Linked DNA regions of Homo sapiens. The protein of the gene in region 1 interacts with the protein of each later gene in a biochemical or structural test. Each region holds a gene or a part of one and is shown on either strand. Other genes may lie near its edges.

Region 1 (7,502 bases):
GCTTTCAAGGCTTCAGGACGATAGACAAAAGCAATGGGGGAAAGTGATGTTACTGGCTGGAGTTCTACCTTAATGGGTTTGGAGACTATATTTCCCCTCCCACCCACCTCCCAGGGTTGAGGTTGTTATTACTCAGATCGCTCTGAGAGAGCAGTTCCAGTTGTCAGCCTGTTAAGTAAACTTCTGGCTTTCCTAGCTCAGAGCCAAGCCCAAGGCCCCCTAAAGCAGGGTAGACCTTTCAAACTGCCTGGCTTTCCAAGAACTCCTCTGGCTCTGCACGGCCAAAGGGAGAAGTGAGGTAGAGAAGGCTGCACTTGATTATTTTAGTCAGTGTCTCCAGGAAGACTAGGTGAACATGCTGGCTGGGATCTGGTTTATTTTTGGCTCCTGGTATTCTTGGGGCATTCTTGCCATTTTGATGGGACTCAGTTAGTCTTCGGGCATTTTATAAAACTGGACCCCCGCTCTGCCGCCACACTTTTTGCCTGGGCTACACCCACTTACTGCAAGCCAGCCAAAACTACACTGCTTGGCAAACAGCCACTTTTGGATGGAGGCATCACAGTCTGGTTACCAGGGTAACAGCCACTGTTCTCAGACGACAACAGGCTTGCAGACAATGTTTTGCTGTTCAATAATGGCATTGTGTTTCAGAGCAGAGAATAATCAGCTACTGCTCTTTTGCTCCTTTCTGGTTCCATCATTATCCCAAAGACTCACTTGGAACATTCCCCTTCCAAATCAAGGCAAAAATTAATGAGCTATCATTTTCCCCATAAATCTTTTGTGCAGACACTACTGAATCAGTGTTCCTCCTTGCTTCCAATCCTAAGGGATTCTATATGGTTGAAGTAGTAAGTTCCCTGTTCCTGGAGGTGATTAAGCAGAGGCTGTACGAACATTTAATTGGTTGTTGTAAAAATGAATCCCGCATTGAAGGTTGGCTCAGACAACTTCTAAAGTTCCTTCCAATCCCGGATTCCATGATACAATGTGTTTACTGCAATTGTTGAACAGCAGTGCACTCCACATCAGAAGTAGTGGCAGTCCAGTACCTTGTTAGAGATGATCTATAATTCAAAGTACTTTAGATACTCTGTTATTGAATAAATGAAAACTCAGTGGCTGCTCCATCATATGTACCTGGCCCAAGTATCGTCCACCCTTAGGACCTGGGACCCAATGTGCATCCTCAATCGTGCCCTTATCTGTGGCACTCTTCCTCTGGAGGAAACCACCCAGCCTCCATAACAGGCAATTGTCCCTGTGGTCACTTTATTTGTTCCTGCCTTTCCTCAGGGATTTCATCCCCTGAGGAAGTAATATTCAACATCCTTCTTTACTCCCTCTCTGTTTTTAATGCACAACCTATCCAGTCAGCTCGGCTGACATTAGATAGGATTCCTGATGTTACCCAGGGCAGGAATTGAGTTCCTCCAACATTCACCTCTCATCTGGTCACACATAATTGGTCAAATGATTCTGACCCAAGCACGCAAAGAAAACCCAACCACCCTGGAAAGAGGAAGAGTTCGCCTGTATACACATTATTGTCTAATAGTAGGTATTATCATGATTTACAGTTGTTATAGATCTTGCCCATTTTCAAAGGACTTTGACATTATTGTTACTTGATTCTCACAACCCTGAAAGTAGACAAAGTAGTTATTGCTGTCCCCATTTTCCAGATGAGGAAGTGGTGATTCAGTGACCTGTCCAAGGTCACATAGTTCATAAGTAGCAGATCTGGGATTTGAATCTGATTTTTCCGACTCCCTGTCCAGTGCTCTCCCTCCTGTTTTACCTGAACACATGCTTCAAAGTGTTCTCTCTGTGTTTCATGATGAAACAACCTAAAGGCTGAACCAGCTCAGTATAATTGCAAATTGATCTCTGTGGATGTTGTCTACTGGATGCTACATTTGATAGGGAATACATGGGGCAACTGAGTCTCATTTCATTTAGGATGTGTTTAAGCTGCTATCTTTGTTTTGCCAAATGTTAGCAATGTCTACAGGACTCTGTGGAGTCCAATAGGGACAAAGACCCTTGTGCTCTGCACACATTACTCTGAGTAGAAACTACCACCAGAACTTCATAGCTTCTGTCTTTGTTCACGGAACCTAGAAAAGCCCTCAATACTCAGCCAACTTAGCAAGAGCCCTAATGTCCCAGCATCCTCCTTGTCACAGCAAAGAGCCTTCAGGAAAGCTGTGTCTGTGATATTTGCTAGAAATGATCAACCCTATATGTGCACACACATGCACATATGCACATACACACACACACTCCTACCCATATCTGTTTCCCATGGTCAAGCCATTGAGGACTTTACTTTCATTTCCTGAACCTGAGAATGGCCTCCTCAGCCATAGCCAAGCCTGAGTCCAGCTTGCCCGATCCCCAGCTTCCTATTAATGCCAAACATGGTTCAAAGTTTGCATCAAGCAAGCAGTTATTTTGTACATCTGAGGGCTAGACAGTGCTCAGTGGCCTCCAGCAGAACCAGGAGGGCAAGCTGACCCAACCGTTGCCAGGGCCTTGGAACCAAGGGAAAAGAGAAGATAGAGGGAAGTGAGGGGGTAGGAGGACACATGACCACATCCATCCAGCTGGGCACTCTCTCCAGAGATCTGTGGGACTCTCCACGTGCTGCTGGAATTCTTTGGTAATAAAGCATCATGCTTAGTACAGCGGAGAAGGAGTTAATCTAACTGAATGTTAAGGAATTTAAAAAGAAAACAAGTGCCAAAACACGACTCATTTAAACCATGGAACCCCCGAACCCCAAAGTTGGAAATTCTCTTGTGAATTCCTGTGTCCTCTTGAATCTTCAATGCTAAAGTTTTTGAAACTTACCCATGTCTTTGGGACTCTGACTCCAATTGTAGCCGGCTGGCTAGTCTGCTTTGTGGCTGACTTTGTTCAGCTGGAAGGATCCTGGTCTCTCCAGCCTCCTTCTTCGGTCTTTTACTTTTTCTCTCTGAGTATCTTTGTCCTCTTCTCCTGCAATGAAAAGGGCTTTCTGATTGACAGCCAACCCCCTTAAAGGGACAGGCCTGCTTTCCTCCTCCTCTCCTCCTCCCTTCTCCTCCCCTTTTCCCCACCTACTCAGGGATACTCCCTTCTCTAAGGGCTCCATCTTCTCTTTCTGCCTTTCACTGCCAATTGTTTCATTTTCTTTGTTTTTCCTTTTTTCCCTAAGGCTTGCCTGGAATTTCGCTTTGCTGCAGAGACATCTGGAAATGTGGATTGAGGGTGGAAATAAAATGAAGATGTCCTGGAAACTTCCAACTGATCCTTGGGTCTAATTGGTGTGGGATATGCAGCACAAGCGTGAGAAGCCATGAAGTGAGAGCCCCAACAGGGGCTCAGAGTCAAAAACCTAGATATTAGCTCCCAAAGTCCTTCCGAATCTGCTCCAGCTCCCCACATCACTCCTAGCTGCCCTTGGCCCTCTCCACCTTTCCCCTCCCGATTCCTTGGAAAATAAGCGTTCCTCCCCCACCCCCACCCCCAGCTCTACGAACACAATAGAGAAGAAAAAATTGTCTTTTAAGATAATTTCCTCCAAATCCTTCTCAGTTTCAACTGCATGAAGACAAAATGCAGGCTGTCAATTCGATGAACAGATTGTGATTAGGCTGGGGGAGGCTAGAATTGTAATAATTTTATAGCTACAATAATAAAGACCCAGAAGTGGGCAAGACCTATGCAAGTTCACAGACTAGGTTAAAGAAAAGGCCAGCGTTGAAGATGTGGGTGATTTCCAAGAAGGATAATCGACTTCGAGACAAGTCAAGAACACGATCTGGGAATCAGGTAGTCAGTATTCTATCCTGAGAGTGTAATATCTTCATCAGAGAGCTTAAGCCAGGCAGACAAGAGGCAGGGAGTGGGTTAGAGTGAAGCAGCAGGTGGCAGTGAGGGTGGAGAGAAGAAACGAAATATAGTCCTTGCCACAGAGAAAGAAGCGGTAAGACAAAAATGGCTAAGCAGCAAAAACAGGGAAATACTATATAAAACCTGCCTTAGCAATAAGCTATTTCTAAAGACTGTGAAGGTATTTAAATGCCCACTGCTAGATGGGATCAGCCTGGGAAGGTTTTCTAGAACAGGTGAATCTTAAACAGTGTCTGTCTGGGCTCCTTGTCAGTCCTGTCTCCCTTCACAGCTCCCTTGACCTAGAGGCCGGTGTCCTCCCATGGATGGCCTTTAAAACAACTGGCTGGCATATAATAAGAGGGGCACCTGTTGGAAGACTCCGGAGAAGGAAGGTATGGTCTCCTGGAACTTTTCCTGTGATTTTGCCTTGGGAGAGGAGAGAAGAGGAGGGAGATACTGAGCAGAGACTAGTACCTTCCTGGGGTGGGAGAAAGGCAAGATTGTGTCTTACAGTTTTCTCTTTGGGCTGTGACTTTGGACATGTTACTGGCTTGGGCTCTGCTGTTAGGAAATGGACGAGTCTTTGGCAGATGCCCCTGTGGGCCCACTGGGGCCAAATCCTGCACCGTTTGAGGCTTGCTTAGAGTACTAGAACTCTAGATCCTTTGCTCTTGTATCAGCCCCAAGAAAAAAGGATCTCTGGAAATGCTGCCCCTTGCAAAACGGTATAATAGTAGCTTTCCAGAGCAGACGAGACTAAGGCCATGTGACTGATGGAAAAGGGTCCTAGAGCCCCTCGCCCTCCCCAGCCCTGCTCGCCAGCCACAGACTATGCCTGCTTTGGAAGCTCAACTGTAGGATTGAGCCAGCAATAAACTTCTGGATGGTCACTGTCGGAATGGCCCTGGAGAAGGGGGAGGACCAAGAGCAAGAAATCGCCAAATGTGTCTCCTCAGCTCATCAGATGGCAGGAGTGAGCCCAAACTTTGGGAGTTCAGATTTAGAGGATGAGGCAAATGATCCTTCACAGCTCGAATAGATGAGACAGCTCTCCACACAGGGGACATCACTCAGACTGAGCCCTCTCACAAAGCTTCCCCTGAGTTCTCAGCAGCAGCTCTGGGGACAGCAACTCTACTGGAAAGAAAATATGTGTTCCCAATAAACCCACAGATACCAATTTATCAACCACATTCCCTTAACACACATTTCTCTTCTCCTTTCTTCCATCTCCATTGCCTTAATATTCATTCTATCCTCTCCCCAAGTCTCAATCTCTTTGTCTCTGTTACCTGTCTCTGTCTCTGTTTCTCTCTATGTGTCTGTCTCTGTTTCCTTTTTCTCTCTCCACATTCCCTGTCTTCGCCTTGTTCTTATGCTTGTTCTTATGCCCAGGGCCAGAAAAGGGACCCAGCCAGGTGACCGTGTCTCACTCATCCCAGTGCCTTAAGGTTCCCAACTCCCTAGAATCTAGTGTGTTCTCATTGCTCTGTACATCCCGACACTCTGCCTCAGTACCTCGTCAGCAGACCTTTCCTGAGGGCTCCCTACAGACCTCATAGGGTATCTTCCCAGGTCCTCCAGAGCCCATTTTTATCTACATACCCCCACCTATTTCTGTGATTCTGCTTCCATTGGTTCTGCTGGGTGCCCTTGGCAAAATATTCTTGAGTCCAGCTAGGCTCCTGCACTGCCAAGGGATTCCTCAAGAGGCACTGCCAGCCTTCTTGGTGCAGCCTGCTGCCTGTACTGGGTGCCTGTGGGAACAATGCAGGATTGTATAAAACTCGTAAACAGTTTGCTTCATGCAATTCTGATGGTACCTCAGAGAATCTGGGCCCCCTTGATCATGGCTTGGTTTGACTGTGCAGCTTTCTTGCAAATAACTCGAAAACACTTGAATATTACCTCCACTCTCTGCTCTATGATCCCATAGTATCAGATTATTGAAGGCCACAGATCAAGTGGGTTCTCCTTGCTTCATTGTGTAGACTGAACTCTAAAACTCAGAGAAGTCCAGTGAATTTCTCCCAGGAAAAACTAGATAAGGGATCAAGTGCCCAATCTAGTGGCCAACTTCTCCCTGAGCACAGAGAAGAACATAAAGGGGAAGAGAGAAGCGCGTACCAGTGAAAGCCTGGGTCATCTGCTATTATTTGGGCTTCTAGAGCTGAGGCTTTGCTTCTCATTCCCAGGATAATGTCTTCCCAGACCAAATTTTGGAAGGCAGCTTTCCTAGCCCTGGCATAGAAGACTGGCTGGCTGGCAGGCAGGCAGTATATTATGTCCTATGTACTGTGGCTAGAACTTTCCACACCCAACTTCATGCCGATTGGCTAGACTATGCCTTTCTGGCCAAGAGAACCGAGGGCTGAGGGCCAGAGATGTCACATACTTTGAGCTGGCAGACAGGGGTAGAGAGTGGAGGGTGATCTTCTGCCTTTCCTGAAGGTTCAAGGAACAATGGGAGGATGGATAGGGGCAGGCCATGGGGTGTATTTGTGAGGGGGAGATGCCCGTGGCTTGGGATGGAGTAAAGAGTAGCCTGGAAGCCAAAATAATCACATGAAAAATCTCAGCTAAAGAATGCCTGAGGAGCACCACATAGCTACTAGCAATGTGAAGAAACAAGCTGTCCACAGAACCCACCTCCACCAACATAAAAACTTGGCCAGCTTTTGCAGGGTTGCCCCTGCAGGGAGGATGCTTGTTTGATGTGATTTCTGAGCAAAGTAGAAATAAAACTAGTATTATTTCTGGGGAACCAATGTTATTTGTTCAATTTGACTGATGGGATACTGAGACAATTTTCCCAATGGCACCTAGCAAGCAAAGACCAGAGCCATCTCTAGAGAATGCCTGTCTCCAGACTCTTATTGCTTGGAAGTTGCTTGGGAGGTTGTTCTGCTGTGAAAAAATGTGTGAATAGAGAGCCTTTGCCCTGAGCAACAACAGCCGGGGGCTGGGGGAGGATGGACAGGCTTCGGGCTGCTGTAGCCCAAGTTTTCAACCTTCTACACTTCTCAGGTTAAGTAGGAGGCCGCTATTTGAAACCCAGGGCAGAGGCAAACTTCCGGCAGTTTGTAGGATCAGTGGGGTTCCAAATTAGTCAGTAACTAGTCAACATGGTGAAACCCTGTCTCTACTAAAACTATAAAAATTAGCCAGGCATGGTGGTGCATGCCTGTAATTCCAGCTGCTCGGGAGGTTGAGGCACAAGAAGTGCTTGAACCTGGAAGGCAGAGGTTACAGTGAGGCGAGATGGTGCCACTGCGCTCCGACAGATCTCAAAAAAAAAAAAAAAAAAAGATTACACAAGATACTGAACATAAAATTCTTACCATAGTGCCTATGCTCAAGTATAATAACAATAATAATAATAATCACCAGATGGGGTGACAGAGTATCTCTGCAAATGTTTGATAAGCATTTAAAAAATAGAGGCTGAACTTTAGTGATCTCTAGAACCAACACCTTTCAGATCCAGGATTCCTATACTTCCCCTGAACCTGCCTATCTTTAAAATGGAGCCAAGGATATGTGCTTTGAAGAAATGTTGAGACTCTTTGAGACACACCTAGCAGTTTCTTTGTGTATTTGTTGTCTTCTAACATCTC
Region 2 (7,029 bases), on another chromosome or scaffold:
TTCAGCCATATGGCCATAGTAGGCCAGTTATGAACTTTTTATGCAGTAAAATTTAATTACAACCATATGATTTGAAATTTGCTTTGATACATAGAAGCTTCCCTTGAACTCTACAGAAATTAAATAATTTTTAAAAGCTTCTTACAAAAAAGTTCAGGGAAAATACTGAACTTATTTCAGGAAACACATGTGTATAGTACACTGGTTATATTTGCACACAGTAAATGTGCAGATCTAAATGCAGCTTTCTGTTCCTCAGGGTGGTCTTGGTAAGCTCTGGCCTTGCAAGCATCTTTGAGTGACTGGTTGTAAGCCTTGCATATATTGCAAGGACAATATTTGCTAAATGGGGCCCCTCACTCATCTGGGCCCTCCCATCAACTCTGAGCCAGCACTCAGCTCTCCCGGTGTGTCTAACAGTCCTTAAGCTGGTAGTGGAGTAATTAGTTTTCCAGATGGGATGAATCCGTGTTTCCCAGGTGAGCACGGTGTCTGCAAAATCATCACAACTAGCAACACCTAGTTCGCCCTTGGACATTCTGACTCAGTGAGGCTGTGGCGGAGCGCAGATAGGGGTCTGGGCGTGCATCCCAGGCGATTCAGAGGCAGGTGACGTGCTGGCCAGGTGGGGCGGGGCCGTCCTGACTGCAGTGCTGGGTTCAGACACTGCTCCCCGGGGAGCCTCATCTCCGCCCTCTTGTGGCCACATCCCAGAACTGCGGCAATGTACAGCATGATGGCCCTGAGACTTGAATATTTGGAGAATTTTTTTCTTAACTCAGAATTTACGTTGAGGAGTGGATCCTGCCTACCACTTCATCTGACATAAAGCTGCTTACTTAGCAGCTCAGTTACTCCCTGCTCACTTCACATATTAAAAGCTTCTCCTAAGACCGGCTATCCTTAAGAGCAGGGGCTGTGCCCTGAATTGCCTGTTGTCCACAGAACCTCCCAGAACCTCCCAGAATCGAGGCTCACGGCAGAGGTTCTGCACTCACCAAGGACGCGGGGGGACCATGTCTGTGCTCATGTGGATCCCCGCTGCTGGGCAGAGCACACCACACATCCAGACTCAACAAAATACATGGAGTCAAAGGTCAGGTGACTGAATCAATGAGTATGTTACACACCAAGAAAGACCCCTCCTCTCTGCACCCCGGGGAGCAGCCCCAGAAGCCTGGTCTCCTCCAGGATGAAAATGCAAACGCAGGTGCCTGGGGGCTCCCAGAGCCTTTGGCTTCACGGTTCCCTCCCGGCCCTGCCTGGAGCTTCATGTGCCTCCCCTTTTGCTTAATGAGAGCCGCTGTCTAAGAGTTAAGGGTTTTCTGGGTGACGTTTAACAATAATAAAGGTGACTGCTTATCTAAGGAATCCGAGCCGCGCACCTGCCAGCCGCGTTTTGTGTTTGTCACTACCTTTTACTTTCACAGCGATTTTGTGAGCTGAGTGGGCGGGTTACCTCCATTTTACAGATGAGAAAACCAAGTCTCAGAGACAGAGCTTATAAACAGCGGGCCTGGCATTCGTCCTGGGTCTGGTTCCAGGTCCTCATGAGCCGACGGGACACTCCCCACTCCCTGGAGGTCTCCTGGGCATTCCCTCCCGTGGCTCCAGGGATCTCCCCCCGACACCCACGTCTGCTTGACTCCTGCTTTAGCTCCCTGAGGGCCCCAACCCCTGGGCATGAGCAAGTTGGACTCCAGCTGGGCCCTGCCCCAGAGTCAAGGTCAGTCGCCTGCTCCAGGGCCCCTGAACCAGCCCAGGCGCAGCCCTTCCTCAAGCACCTCCGGCTTCACATGCATCTCGGAGGAAATCCACGCGTAAATGCGGGTGGGCAATGCCACCTGAGCCCCTGCACGCCTGCTGGGACAGAGCACGTCCAGGGTACAGTGCGGCTGAGCCAGAGGCGGCAGCCACCCTTGTACTCAGCTTAGTTGGGGATTCTGGGAGCCCTTAGTCCCCGCTCAGTGGAGCTGAGCAGAGGGTACCTTACCAGCTTAAAAATTTTGGAAAGCGTGCCCTGGGCATCGACTCCCTTGAATCCCTTGTGAGCCGATTTATAGTCGGACGCTCTGCCTCCGTAGCCAAATCCTGGTCTCTGGCCTTCGGCCCCCTGCAAGAGAAGACCACGGAGCTCAACCTCCACCCGCGGTGCTGGGCACGCTGCTTGAGCCACTGGGAGCTGCCACCAGGGCCCCGGGGAAGGGCCCAGGCCCCGGACTGGACTGGTGAGTGGTTCAGGAGCCACGGGCCAGCACCACGCTGAGGGGGTGGGGGCGGGAGAGGCTGCTCCCCCAGGTCTACCAGGGTGTTGGCCGCAGAGAGAGGAGGGCTCTGGTTTGGGCGGAGGCTCTCTCATGAGATATGCGGCCCAACCACACATATTTTAAGGATCTAAGTCGTTTAGGGAACAGTTGCTTACCTTCACGCTGTGGGGTGTTCAAGAGAAGATTAGCAAACATCAAGCAAATCAAGGTAAGGAGGCTCCTGCCTACACGGGTTTGGAGGACTCGGACCCTGGGGGGCTGTGCGCTGTGTAGGTGCCGGTCCCCGGAGGCCCCGGCCTGCGCCTTTGCTGGGGGCTCCTTTTGCTGATTGATTTGCACAGATTGGATTCTGGTCACATGTGCCCTGTGGTTCTAGGATCTGTCTGGGAGATCAAGAGTCCTCGGCCTTAGTAAAATGTCGAGCCTCGTATCTTTTATAAGGTTTTGAGACAAAATCCTGAGCTCTCTCCCAGGGTGAGCAGGAATCAGTCTCCCTTGGCCATAGCTCGGACTGGGAGCAACAGGAGGCCGGGGCTGCTGAGCCGGACAGAGGGAGGAGGCAGGCCTGGCTGGCACGGGGGGCGGCCGCATCCTGGCAGCAGCGGGACAGCGTCTCAGCTCCCCCACCTCCCAGTCCCCTAGCACCTTTCTAGCTCATCCGGCTGTGTGGCCTTGGGCAAGGGCAGGAACCTCTCTGAGCTTCAGTTTCCTCATCTACGCAATGGGGCTGTGCGAGAACACAAGCCGTTCATGGAGATGCCACTCCTCAGGTGGAGGCTGCCAGCTCTGGGCTTTGGTGCCAGCTGTCATTTATGGAAGAGCAGGCCGCCCTGCCCTGGCCTCATCAGCCCCAGCAGCCCCTCTGGCTTCCTCATGGGCCGTGTGACCGCAGGGGCTTCCTGACACACATGGGTGCGAGTGTCCCAGGACCAGCCTCTACTTGCTACTGTGCTGTCTTCTCGAGTGGGAACTCCACTGCAAACATGGGGAGGAAGGGAAGGAGCTCGCTGTGGGAGTCTGGGCGCGGTGGACGTTAACAATGGGGGGCGAAGTGTCCTCCCACGGTGGGTGCACTGTCTGTGGGAAGGCTGACCACGCTGTTAGCTTTTCAGGGATCTTGGTTGGCCTCCTGAGTCTCTACTCAATGGACAGGGTCCAGACTGCACTTTACATTTTGCCAACAAGAAATGGGAGACTGTCCTTGAGCCCTCTCCTGAAGACTTGAGGGAACCAAACCAGACTGTCCCTCCTCTATCAGCCTGCAGCCTTTCTTCCATTTCATTAAAGTGTTTTAGGACAGGGAGGACCTTGACCAACCTAGCCCATCTCTTATTTAGAGGTGAGGAAGATGACACCAGAGGCCTCAAGGCTTCCAGAGCACCTGGCTGCACCCTCAGCCTCTGCTGGGGGCTTCCCACCATACAAGCTACTTGCACAGTTTTCTTTTCATTCAGCCTGTGCTTGGGAGTGAGCATGGCCACTCAGAACCAGGCAGCTGCTTTCGTGTGAACAGTTGATTCGGGGGCTATCCAGTGAGGTGAGGGACGGGATGTGTGGCAAGAAGGTCTAAGCACTGCACACGAGGGGACAGCCAGCCTCGCTCTTGCGTCCTAGAGGTTTCCAGGTTCATGCTCACTCCCTGATGGCAGAGGGCAGGTTGCCAGCCTGGCTCTACATGGCAGAAAGCCACTTCCCTGCAAGCGTTAAGTCCTTCTGTCTTACTCTATTGCTTTTCTCCAAAAATAAAGCATTTTTGAGAGCTAAATCCGGGGATTGACTTTCAGATTAACAATCTGCGCGGCCTTTCCTCCTTTCCAATCCTTAGTCATGTTTATCTTTGGGGAACCTAGAATGTACCAGGAAACACACAACACAGCTTAGAAAGAGAAAGTGGGGGCTCTCTGGAACTCCAGACAAGGAGAGAGTCCTGCGGCTCTGGGAAACAGACAAGCAGACAAAATGCAGAGAAGGATTTTGCTTTGGAAAAAAGAGAAATTCAACAGACATTAGTAGGACCCAAAAGGGAGAGATGCAGGGAGGAATGCAAGGGTCTTTCTTGTTAGCTGCTGGGGCAGAACGGCCTGTGTGCAACCCCCCATCGCTCCACATTCAGGGAGGATCCGGCACGACGGCCCCAAAGTCCACTCCTAGAAAATTAAGAGCAGATAAAGCAGTAGCTAAAATAAGATTTCTGGGTCAAAAATGAATTTCATTCTTCTATCATCTTTGTCTCCTGCTGGCATAGAAAATAAAAAATTAATTGTGAGTACTAGTCCATGTACATTTGCTACATGATTGTCATCGTTTTGCAAATTCATTAGGTCAGAAAAAGCAAGTCAAATATGCATTAATGGAAAACGTTTCGGTAAATATCTTAGTTCATAATTCAGTGTAATCATGTGTGGGACTGATCTGGGATCCTCATGGTCTCTCAAGTACCCTGCCCCTTCCTCCCTCTCTTCCTTCCTCTTCCCCACCTTCTGTTTTCTTTCCCTGTTCTTTCTTCCTGTTCTTTCTCCTTGTTGTTTTTCTTTTAAAATGTATTCATTCATTTATATGATGCTTATTAATTGAGCAGAAAGTGTAGGTAGGCTCTGTTCTAGCGTATGAGAGCATTGCAGTTTCGGAGACAGACACAACCTATCTACAATACGTTGGTGGTTATTCCTCCATTTTATTCTAAAATTATAACTTTTATACAGTAAGAATCATATCTGGTATTTGCTAGTAACTAAAGTCTGTAAGTTTGGTTAGAATATAATGATTGGCATTTTAATTTGGCTCAGACACCAAATTTTTTCACTAGAAAGTTCAAATTGGCCATTTTAAACCTTCCTTGAAAGTTTGCTTTCAGTATTAACCAGCCTAAAATTCCTAAGGAAGATTTTCTGGATGGCTTGATATCTATGTTTTAATTATTATTTAAACACATACAAAACAAAAATCTTTGGATTAATGAGGTTATTATAAATCGAGCAACTCTATTTAGCCTCTTTTTCTGTTCATCAGCAGAATCATTTTCCCAGTGTCAGCATCTGGGGTCACTGAGACGGGCCAGCCAGTCCCACTTCCACATGCGGGTTCCTGGGGCTTCTCGCACTGGTTGTGTTGGAGGAAGTTAAACATTTTCTCGGACGTGGTGTTGCTCCCTCCCTGGGAGGGAGACCAGTCACGTCGCCTGGGAACCCTCTGGGAGAAGAGGATCTGGCCTTGCAGGGCTGGGTCCCCGGCACAGAAGCAAGAGACCAGACCTTCCGGAAGGGAAGACCACGTTTCATTTCCCCAGTGGAAGACAAGGCGGCCCGATCCCAGCTGTGGGCAGAGAGGTCTCGAGAGGAGAGAAAAGGAGGCCAGGAAGCAACCGAAACAGAGCAGAACACAAAAGTTGCGGGGCTGTGAGGACTGGGACGGAAGAGGAAGCCGATGGAAGTGCGTTCGTCACCTACCCAGCTAAATCTGCTCAGGGACAGTCCTCTCCCCTGCATGAGGAAGACAGAGAAATAATGACATGGTGGTCAGTGAAGGGAAAGTCCTTTCAATCAACAGGAAACACAGTCAAAGCACAGTGGAGCTGAGGTGGTAAAAACAGGTTCCACCCGGAGCTCCGAGGGGGGCCGCAGGCTCAGGGCCACAGCGGCTGTGCAGGTGCGGGAGGGACAGGAGGGGTGCATGGATCTGCCGACCTGTTCTACTTGGGAGCTGCCTGGCAACACGTTTTGGGATGGATTCTGGTAGCTCGGAGCCTAACTCTCTCTTTGGTACATTATGGGATTTTAGAGAAGGTCTATCAGAAAAGTGATGATCAATCAAAACATTCCAAGGTCTTACCTTTCCCTGCGACGGGGGTGGTGTGCGAGGCGTCACCTGGAAAGACACAGAGAACCGTGGGCTGCACTGGGAGCCCTGTGCCGCCGTCCATTTCCTAACGGGCTCCTGCCTGCTGAGGGTGGCTAGCATCCATCAGCTGCCAGAAGCACCCGGGTGCCCAGCCTCCCCACTTCTGTCCTAGTTGGTGAAGAAGTATAGACCTGAGATTGAAAATATTCTAGATGATGCAGATCTCCCAGAGCACTCAGGAAGTGTTTCAGAGGATGGAAAACACCTCCCAGAGGCTCCGTAGCTGGGGAATGGGCCCATCTTGGGACACTGAGGGAGGCGGCGGACTTTGCTTCACCGTGAGCCCTTTCCGGGGCTAGGAGTAGCGGGCCCTCTGACATTCAGAGCTTCCAAGGGGATGTCCCCAGGTCTGCAGCTCCTAAGTGCACTTATCGAATACGAGCATAAAATGTCTGCTGCACTGAGATCTTGGAATTAGAAGCCTGTGGTTTTGTTCTTGTTTTTAATCGTCTTCGTTTTGCATGGCACTTTTCGGTTTACAGAAAAACTGTGCAGAAATTAGTTTCCACATACCCCGAACAGTTTCCCTTATTAGCAACACTGCCTTAGGGCTCTCTCGGTGCTGTGCACGCTGTGGGTTTGGACAAGTGCGTGGTCTTCAGTCACCATGGCAGCCTCGACAGAGCGGTTTCGCTGCCCGAAAAATGCCCTAAAAATGCCCTGTGCTCTCTCTGCTGCCCCCTCCGCTCCCAGCCCATGGCAAGCACTCTCCATAGGTTGCAAAGCCTGTGTTTTTAGGCTAAGCGTTACATGGGAGCCTAATCTCAAGAGAAGTGAGCTCTCTGGAGAACGCACGGAGCGCACGGTGCAATCCGTGGCAGATACAGTCGGGAAGCGCTTGCCTGGAACTCGCGATCAGGTGCGA

The links.
Region 2: the proteins of PLP1 (region 1) and MBP form a complex in vitro, tested with the Homo sapiens proteins (one study listed by BioGRID).

Annotation. Positions count from the first base shown.
Region 1 is NC_000023.11:103,772,357-103,779,858, reverse strand, and holds the start of PLP1 (myelin proteolipid protein), read right to left. Parts: upstream 3,020-7,502; 5' UTR 2,864-3,019; coding exon 2,860-2,863; intron 1-2,859.
Region 2 is NC_000018.10:76,982,782-76,989,810, forward strand, and holds part of MBP (Golli-MBP), read right to left. Parts: intron 6,132-7,029; coding exon 6,096-6,131; intron 5,747-6,095; coding exon 5,714-5,746; coding exon of another isoform or gene 5,309-5,713; exon of another isoform or gene 4,922-5,308; intron 2,430-4,921; coding exon of another isoform or gene 2,423-2,429; intron 2,114-2,422; coding exon 1,994-2,113; intron 1,372-1,993; exon of another isoform or gene 946-1,371; intron 1-945. UniProt on the Homo sapiens protein: The classic group of MBP isoforms (isoform 4-isoform 14) are with PLP the most abundant protein components of the myelin membrane in the CNS. They have a role in both its formation and stabilization.